Regions from separate parts of the Homo sapiens genome. Here region 1 is linked to region 2. Evidence: fine-mapped expression QTL. A gene starts in region 2. The other region holds a variant in brackets. All regions are shown on one strand. Distances are between the middles of the regions.

The links.
Region 1: its variant is fine-mapped to the expression of PPFIA4 in whole blood (TOPMed, PIP 0.91).

What each region holds. Positions count from the first base shown.
Region 1 is chr1:203,067,728-203,071,976 of GRCh38, reverse strand. It overlaps PPFIA4 (PPFI scaffold protein A4), which reads right to left. Exons shown (of 30, transcript NM_001304331.2): 26 at 4,185-4,249; 27 at 3,349-3,524; 28 at 217-285. Among named protein-coding and RNA genes, the nearest start is that of MYOPARR, 14 kb to the left of the region's middle. RefSeq lists an enhancer at 2,461-2,510. The variant G/A (reference allele first, on the strand shown) is at 2,647.
Region 2 is chr1:203,024,318-203,028,566 of GRCh38, reverse strand. It overlaps PPFIA4 (PPFI scaffold protein A4), which reads right to left and starts at 2,076. Exons shown (of 30, transcript NM_001304331.2): 1 at 1,938-2,076. It overlaps TMEM183A (transmembrane protein 183A), which reads right to left. Exons shown (of 8, transcript NM_138391.6): 8 at 3,719-4,249. RefSeq lists an enhancer at 1,629-2,150 and a silencer at 1,977-2,286.

The DNA of each region.
Region 1 (4,249 bases), 43 kb before region 2:
TCACAGAGACTTCTCGACAGCCTATTACTACCCAAGACAAGTTCTTCTAGGGCTGGTCCACCTCCTCAACCCCCTGACATTATCCCCATCCCCTCTGGCTCTCCTCCCATAGACTAGCCTTCCAACAATTAGCCCAGGGAAGGCAGAACTCATGAACCTCAATCCAACGAAGATGACCAAATCCCCAAGGCTCCTAATTCATGGCCAGGTACTCACGTCATCCAGCTTCCGGTCTGTGCCCAAGGCCAACAGGTTATTGAACTCTCTTTCCATCACTTGGCGTGCCTGCAGTCCATAGAGCAGGAGAGGGAAAGGTGGGAAGGGCTATAGTTAACTACCTTTATGCCATCTTTCACCATTTTCCAAGGGTCCAAGGTCAGAGATGCAAGGCTCCAGTGCATTTAGCCCATTAGAGGCCTTTACACACCTTTTTGAAGCTGCTCCTTCAAGCAAACTCATAAGTAAAGCTGTAAGCCTAGGATTCTTTCATATACAGCAAATTAGAACAACATAATTTTTTTTTTTAAAGTAGTGGCCGGGCACTTTGGGAGGCCGAGGCGGGTAGATCACAAGGTCAGAAGGTCAAGACCATCCTGACTAACACAGTGAAACCCCGTCTCTACGAAAAATACAAAAAATTAGCCAGGCATGGTGTGGCAGGCGCCTGTAGTCCCAGCTACTCGGGAGGCTGAGGCAGGAGAATTGCTTGAACCCGGGAGGCGGAGCTTGCAGTGAGCCGAAATGGCACTACTGCACTCCAGCCTGGGGGACAGAGTGAGACTCTGTCTCAAAAAAAAAAAAAAAAATAGCAGTCTTGGCAACATACTGAGACCCTGTCTCAAAAAAAAAAAAAAATTTAATTAACTGGGCATGGTTGTGAACACCTACAGTCCCAGCTACCAGTTAGTTGGGCAGGAGGATAGCTTGATCCCAGGAGTCTGAGGCTACAGTGAGCTATGATCACACCTGCACTCCAGATCGGGTGATAGAACAAGACCCTGTCTCTAAGAAAAAAAAAAAACAAAAAAGTGGGATCATAGAACACATAGATAAAGAGACGTCACCTACTTGGAAAAAAAATTGTCTGAAAGGGGAAAATTGTGCCTGTCTTTCTCTTTCTGGAGGGGTAAGTAAGCATGTAAACCATGGATAACCAGAACATGACTGATTTGGATTAAATAAATATATCTGATAAGTTTTCACATCAAAAACTTAAAATTAGGAAGCCTGCTCAGCTGTGGATACTGGTTGTCCCTGGGCTGTGTGCATACAGACTCTCTCTAGGCCTCCCAGGAGATTAACTCATTCAGAGTTTTCAGAAATGCCAAAAACAGAAAAGTTTTCAAAACTGCTACCAGATATTTTTAACCTTTTTTTTTTTTTTTTTTTTTGAGGGAGACAGGGTCTCATTCTGTTGCCCAGGCTGGAGTGCAGTGGCACAATCATGGCTCACTGCAGCCTTAAACTCCTGGGCTCAAGCAAAACTCCCGCCTCAGCCTCCCGAGTAATTGGGACTACAGTCACGCATTACCAAACCCAGTTAATTTTTTAAACTTTTTGTAGAGACTGGGTCTCACTATGTTGCCCAGGCTGGTCTTAAACTCCTGGCCTCAAGCAATCCTCCCACCTTGACCTCCCAAAATGCTGAGCATACAGGCCTGAGCTACCACACCGAGCCATTTTTAACCATTTTAAATGAGGGATTCCGTATTGGGTCACACACTACTTCTCCCAACAGCTAAGCTCAATGACGGGGTCAGGAAATTAAGAAAGGTTAGAAAGCCATAGGGAGGTGTCCCTGCTACTATTTACAGAATTACTGCTATCCTCCAAAACTGAATGCATTAGAGATAGGAAATCAAAGAAAGAGAAAAGTCCATTTCTAGGTAGAAAATATTAAGCGTAGAGTTCCATAAGGACAGTCTGTGCCAGTATTGGGAACATAACATTTTTAGAAATGATCTGAAAGGAGAAGCACAGTAAATTTCAAGTATCCAAATGACACTGCTCCTCTGGGCAGTGAAAGGTGAGGAGGATAGGTGTAAATTTCAGAAGCGTCTCACAAAGAGAGGTGAGTGGGCAGCAAAGTGGCAGACGAGGCTTGCCCGAAGTGGGCAAGTGGAGAGAACGCACTTGGGGGAAAAATCCAGGCTCCTCTTGGAGAATGAAGGGATCTGTCCTATCTATTTTGACTGGTTGGGGTGGGGGCGGGGCGGGGGGGTCACTGCAGAATGCCTACAGGACACAATGGCCCTGTGCACTGCCACCACCCCCAAAAGGCCAACACACTGCCCAGAATTACGAGACAACACAGCCCTACCCTCATTCAAGCCAAAACGTGTCTGCTCCCAGAATAGCCTGTGCAGCTCTGGTGGCTGAATTTCAAAAGAGATCTGACAGCTGCAAACAGTCCAGACAAGGGCAGCTAAAACAATCAGGGGACAGAGGCGAGTCTATATGAGGAAAGCCTAAAAGAATTAAGAACACTCCGTCTGGAGAGACAAAGGCTTGGGCCCAGAGGCAATACAATCAGAGTTTATGAAATCATAAAAGGTGAGAACTAGTTAAATACAAATATCCTTACCAAACCTAAACCATCAAGAGGAGGTAGTTCCTTCCCCAGGGGCCTGACAGGGGCATTTTCAG[G/A]ACAAATAAAATCAGGAAGTACTCTACACAACAAGCAGTACTTCTAGAATCTATTACCCACAGGAAGTTAGAAAGGCCAAAAATATAAATAGGTTCAAGAGAATTTAGATATATTCTTAGATGACAGCTCCATAAAAATGATGAAATGTAATTTCATGAGATGTTTAATCATTTGAGCTGTTGACAGAGAGCCAAAGCCCTGGTGTGGAGAGGCTCTGGGTTGTGTAATTTGGTATATTTAGCTTTTTTAAGGCTGGGGGCCCAGGAGCAGATCCCTAGGGTGGTAGACAAAGGTGATATGGGCTCTCTGGTCCCTAGGGGCCCTGGGGCTCATTCCCCTCTAAGAAAAGTCAGATCAGAGAAGCAGGATGAAAAGGAAGGCTCAGAGTCTCAGCTATGAAGTGGGGTTAGGAGGAGATAGAGGTACCCAGGGCAGGACGGGGATGCGCATTGTAAGAGCACACTGTGTGCCAGGCCCACGCTAGGTGTGCTCTGTATGTGAAGGCCATGTGTTCCCATGAGGGCTTGCTTATGCACAGCGATCACTTGGAGAATTGAGGACATTGCGATCCCCTCTGGCATAGGCCCTAGAAAAGCTCCCCACCCCCCAAGATACCTAAGCCTTTGTGTATGAGGGAAAGAAAGAGAGCAAGTGAGGGATACAGGGAGAGACTCAAGTTGACTGATTAAAAGGCTGCCCACCTGGGTGTTCTGTGTGGGGATCTGGAGGATCAGGGCCAGTGTGTTGTGGTCGAAGTTCTCGTCCAGGGCCAGCAAGGCTCCATGCACACCACTCTCATGCAGGTTTCCTGCGTAGTCCCGGAGCCCAATAGACTGGACCCAATGAACCACCTGGTCGTTGGTCCAGACTAACACATCTGGAGTGTGGGGGAAGAAAAGGGACGGAAGGAGATACTACGTTTCATCAAGGGCCCTCCAAGGACAGAAGCAGAGCTCCCTAAACCCAGAGCCGCAGTCCACCCTGCTCTCTGACCCCCACTCCATCCCTAAATTTCCATATCTTCTTTCTCTCCTCCCTGGCACCTGGGTGCCTGGGGAACCAACCCCCCACTCACTCCATCCCTGCCAGTTTACAGGACCCGGGGTCAGGCCAACAGGCTCCAAGCTTTCTCCCCAGAACCCTTGCACGGGTCATCCCCCTGACCCAAGCTGGAATGGCCTTCTTATTCTTTCCACCTTCAAGGTCTCCTCTAAGACTTGCATCTCCCATCCAGCCCCATCCAGATCAACAAGTTCCACAGGCACACCAGTCTATAACACCGTCCCAGAGGATTCACTGCATTTGTCCAGTTGGTGGCTGCTATCTGGTATGTGGGGTTGAGGGAGGGGAATTATAGACAACTTGGCATGGACTATGTCTCCTCCATCAGACTGGGAGCTCCCTAAGGTGAGGCTGCATCTTCCTTTTCAGACTGGAAGATTCCCTGAGACACAGAATGCCTCCCCTCCACTTGGCCCAAGGCAGGGACCAGCCAAGCAGGCTGCTCCCGAACCCTCTCCAAGCCTGACGAGCTTACCCTTGATCTCATGCTGGCTCTCCTCTCGCCTCTTCTCCAGCTCCTTCCGGTCATAATTCAGCCTC
Region 2 (4,249 bases):
CCAGGGAAGAATGTCCTTGGCATTCGAAGGCCTCGGCTAGCTGCCCATATCTTAAAACCCCCTTAACACCCAGCTCCCCAGCCCTGCTGAGCCTTCATCCCCACCTCATCACCACCACAGCCTGACTACTCATTCTCTTGCCTAGCTCTAGCTCTGCCATCCTCAGAGGCTCTGTGAGGACCTATAAGCCATCCCTGACAACTCTTTCCAACTCTAAGATTTCAGCAATCAACTCAGAGATGAGACCCAGGAGCCTGGCTGCCTGCCATGCCCTGCCCCTCCAGCCCTCCTTTACAGCCCAGCAGCCAGACCTCATGCACCACACGGTTCTGACATCACGACATGCTCAGCAGCACAAACCCCAACTCCACTGGATGCGAATTCCCTTCTACACCCTCCTCCCCCACACTATTCCATCTTCCAGAGATGGCGTCTCCCACTACACAGAGTGTCTAGGACATTCTTGGCCCCCAATAACCATTTTGTCATTCATTATCTCCTTACTTTGAGATACCGTTTACCCCACGAAGCCTCCTCAAGCCTCAGGACAAAATCTGAGAAAATAACCAAGGGAAATCATTCAAGCTGCCCTTTTGCTTAGGCAGCTTCCCTGGGACTACCTGGCCAGTTAATAGTGGTAGGGGGTGTGTAGGTTGGAGTCTAATTCAGACAGCTGTTTGAAAGCACGTGGACACAGTTCTTTCTTTTTCTAATCCAACAGCAATGTAACAGAATGGGGATGGGCGGTGAGAAGGGTGTTAACAGAATACCTGCTATGTGTGCCTCCTATGTGTACCTTTCAGCTACTCCGTGGCTGTAAATTGCCTTCAGAAGACCTAGCACCGAGCATAGTATCTGGCAGATAGTAGGTGTCCAACAAATGTTTGCTGGATGTTGAGCAAAGTACTAGGTACCAGATCCAAGAACTCTGGAAAGGACTATGGGAAATCCCTGAAACCTGGCTCCTGGAGGGGACCCTTAAGCTCACACCAGGAGGGGATCTCCCTGCGAAGCAGCGCCTCCTTAACCACTTGCTCTCCACACAGAACGGCCCCAACTCTCCTGCTCCTCTGATGGAAACTACCAGCACACCTCTCCTCAAAGGTGACATCAGCTCCTAGTGGCACCTTGTCCTGGATCCCTCCTCCTTCTCGAAGAAAACCACCTACACCATGTCTCCAAGTCCTCCAGCCCGACCTCTCTCTTCCCACCCACCATCAAAACCTCAAAATCTGCGCTGGAAAACATCCCTACTGCGTGGACGTAAGTCAGCGCCCCACTCCCACCCTCCCAGTTCAGGCATCTCTATTCCAGCCCTCTTTTCCTGTTGCGCCCACCCCTGTCCCCACCCCCACCAGGCCTCGGGTTGGCCGCTCCTTCCACCCCACCGCCCTGGCACTGCGGAGATGGGGGCATCTCTGGCACAGACTGAGGCTGGCAGTTCGAGGAATGGAGAGCTAGCGACAGGAACAGGGGTGCTATGAGCAACTCGGGAAAGATTAAGACCCCCGCGAAGAGCGAAGACCTCAGCCCATCAGAATCGCGTCCCCAAAGGAGTGGGGTTGGCCCCGGAGCCGAGAGGCGCTTTTTCTGACTCTCCTGGAGGGGAAATGGGGGCGCAGTCTGCTCCGTTCCCACCGGGAGACTCGCCAACTCGGCCCCCTCCCCTGAAGCCGATGGAGCAGAGGGCGCACTCCACGCCCTCCCCGCAGATCAGGCATCGCCCCTATCCTCACCCCCAAGGGCACAGGGCACCGCAAAGGAGGGCGAGGGGCGGCAGGGTAAGCAGTACCGACGCCTGCCGGAGGTAGCACATACGGAGTCAAAAAGGGCTGTTTCCCGAGGTGCGATAGACGAGACCCCTCCCCAAACTGTCGAGGGGAGCTGGAGATGGGGAAAAGACGCATCCTACCCCAGTCCAGGCTCTGGGCGCTCACCTGCCTGCAAATGCCGAAGGCCAGGCGGCTAGGCTCGGAAGCAGCAGGGAGCCGCCCCCGACCCGTGCAGCCCGACACGTCCTAGAGCCGAGCCGGCGCCGAGGTAGCTGCAGCCTCCGCCGCCCAAGCGCGCGGCCGCGGGGCCCCGCCCCCTTCCTCCGCGGACAACCCCCCCCGGCTCCGCCCCCTAGGCGGGGCTGGGCTGCCGCGACCGAGGCCACGCCTCCCGCCCCCAAGCGCCTCGGGTCCGGGCACGTGACGAGAGCGCCGCTTTGAGGCCGCGCGCCATCTTGGTTCAGCCTAGGAGGTGGCGAAGTGCCAGAGTTTTATTCCGCAGAAGGGTCTCAGGGCCCAGGAGTGCTGCCCACATTCTGCCCCTCCCTCTGAACTCGCCCTTGTTCCTAGTCTAACAGCCCGTTCCCTAAATTGGCCTTAGTCTCGGCCTTGTAATTGTCAAGTTTGTCACCTTTCACGCTTGCTCTCCTGCCCGTTCCTTGCTTTTCCTTTGATCGCACCCATTTTTTAAGTGGGGAAACTTGATATCCGGATACTACATCTGTAGTATGCTCTTCAGTGAATTGTGTCGCTTGCCTTCAGGCACCTGGCTGTTCTAACACTGTTACTACAAAATGAAGGGTTTGTCTATTACATATACATAGTATGAAAACAAGTCTCAAATGCCAAAATTCCTGACTGACAAATTTTAGCTAAGCCTCTCCATTTTCCTGAATTGCTCCCTTACCCTGCCCCCTGTGGCTATTAATGCATCTTTTCCATCTGCTTTGTGAAGTTTCATCACAGTGCCTACTCAATCCTTTACCAATACCCAGTAAGCACCACTAAAAGTGTGAACAATTTTTATATACATGCAATGTGTTCATGTGTGTGTATTTATAGATATATACACAGCATGTTCTATATCAGCAGCAAATGCTATAGTTGAGATCAGTGACACATACAACCTTCTCTCATTTATCTTCCACCCAATATATTCACCATTTGGCATAATTTCCTTGCGTCTCTTTGAAGACAGGGAAATCTTGAGTAATTCTGATCTGAGGGGTGGGTAAGTGAAGCTAAATCTGTGACCCTTGAACAACAGGGCCTTCAACTGCACAGGGCCAGTTGCATGCAGATTTTCTTCCTTCCCCGCCACCCCTGAGACAGCAAGACTACCCCTCCTCTTCTTACTCGTCAGCCTGCTCAACATGATGACCCACTTAATGAACAGTAAATGTATTTTCTCTTCTTTGATTTTCTTAATAACATTTTCTTTTCTCGAGCTTATTATAATAAGGTATATACTACATATACAAAATGCACATTAATCAACTGTTTATGTTATCAATAAGGCTTCCAGTCAACAGTAGGCTATTAAGTTTTCGGGCAGTCAAAAGTCATAGCAGATTTTCAACTGTGTGAGGGTCTGTGTCCATAACTCTCACAGCGTTCAAGGATCAATTTATGTTGCTTGACAGAGCAAAATCACAGTATATAACCTGTAGTCCAGAAAGTTCTAATTCTTCTTCGGGTGGTCTGGGGTCCTCACCAAAAGGAAATCCCTGAGACACTTCACATCCTGTCACTAATAAAGCATGTATCATGCTAGAAACGGCAACTCAGCCAATGCAGAGGAAGGCTGAAGCCAAGATAACGACTGGTAACACATTTTACCAAATGTTTGTCAATATTATGCTGAGAGAGAGCTGAGGCAGTATCTAGTACTGTATCTGTCACCATACCATGGAATTTGACACAAAAAACTCAGAGCTGAGTCAGAATACAATTATTAAGCCAAATTTATTTCACCCCCTTTTTAAAGGTACTCCTAAGCGGGGAACAATGCACCAAGACACTCCTGCTCCATGGCATCTTTAGTTCAGGCAACCTGGCAGGGACTGTGCTTCTCCCCTCCTGCCTCAAAGAGGCAACTTTTAATTGTAGAGATCTGCAAAGTGCTCATTGTCCTTAGGTTGTCTGTTATCACTCAAATGCCCAAATTCTGTTTTTGACTGACCCAGGCTCACTCTGTGTGAACAGTTTTAATACCACCCTCAACGTGGGATAAGGTTAGCTGTTAGCAGCAAAATTAAGCAGATGCTTTCTAGGAATATTCCTAGGGAAGATGGTAAAAAAAAAAAAACAAAAATGTGAATTTAGCAGTTTGCCTCACAAGATTTTCACTTTTAAAGAATACTGTCTTAATGCCCACCTCCTGGCAATATCCAGGTAATATCCAGCTCACTGGTTAATTTTGGATGGTGGAGGGTGGGAGGAGAGACAAGCAGCAAGGTTTTCTCCTTAGCAAAACA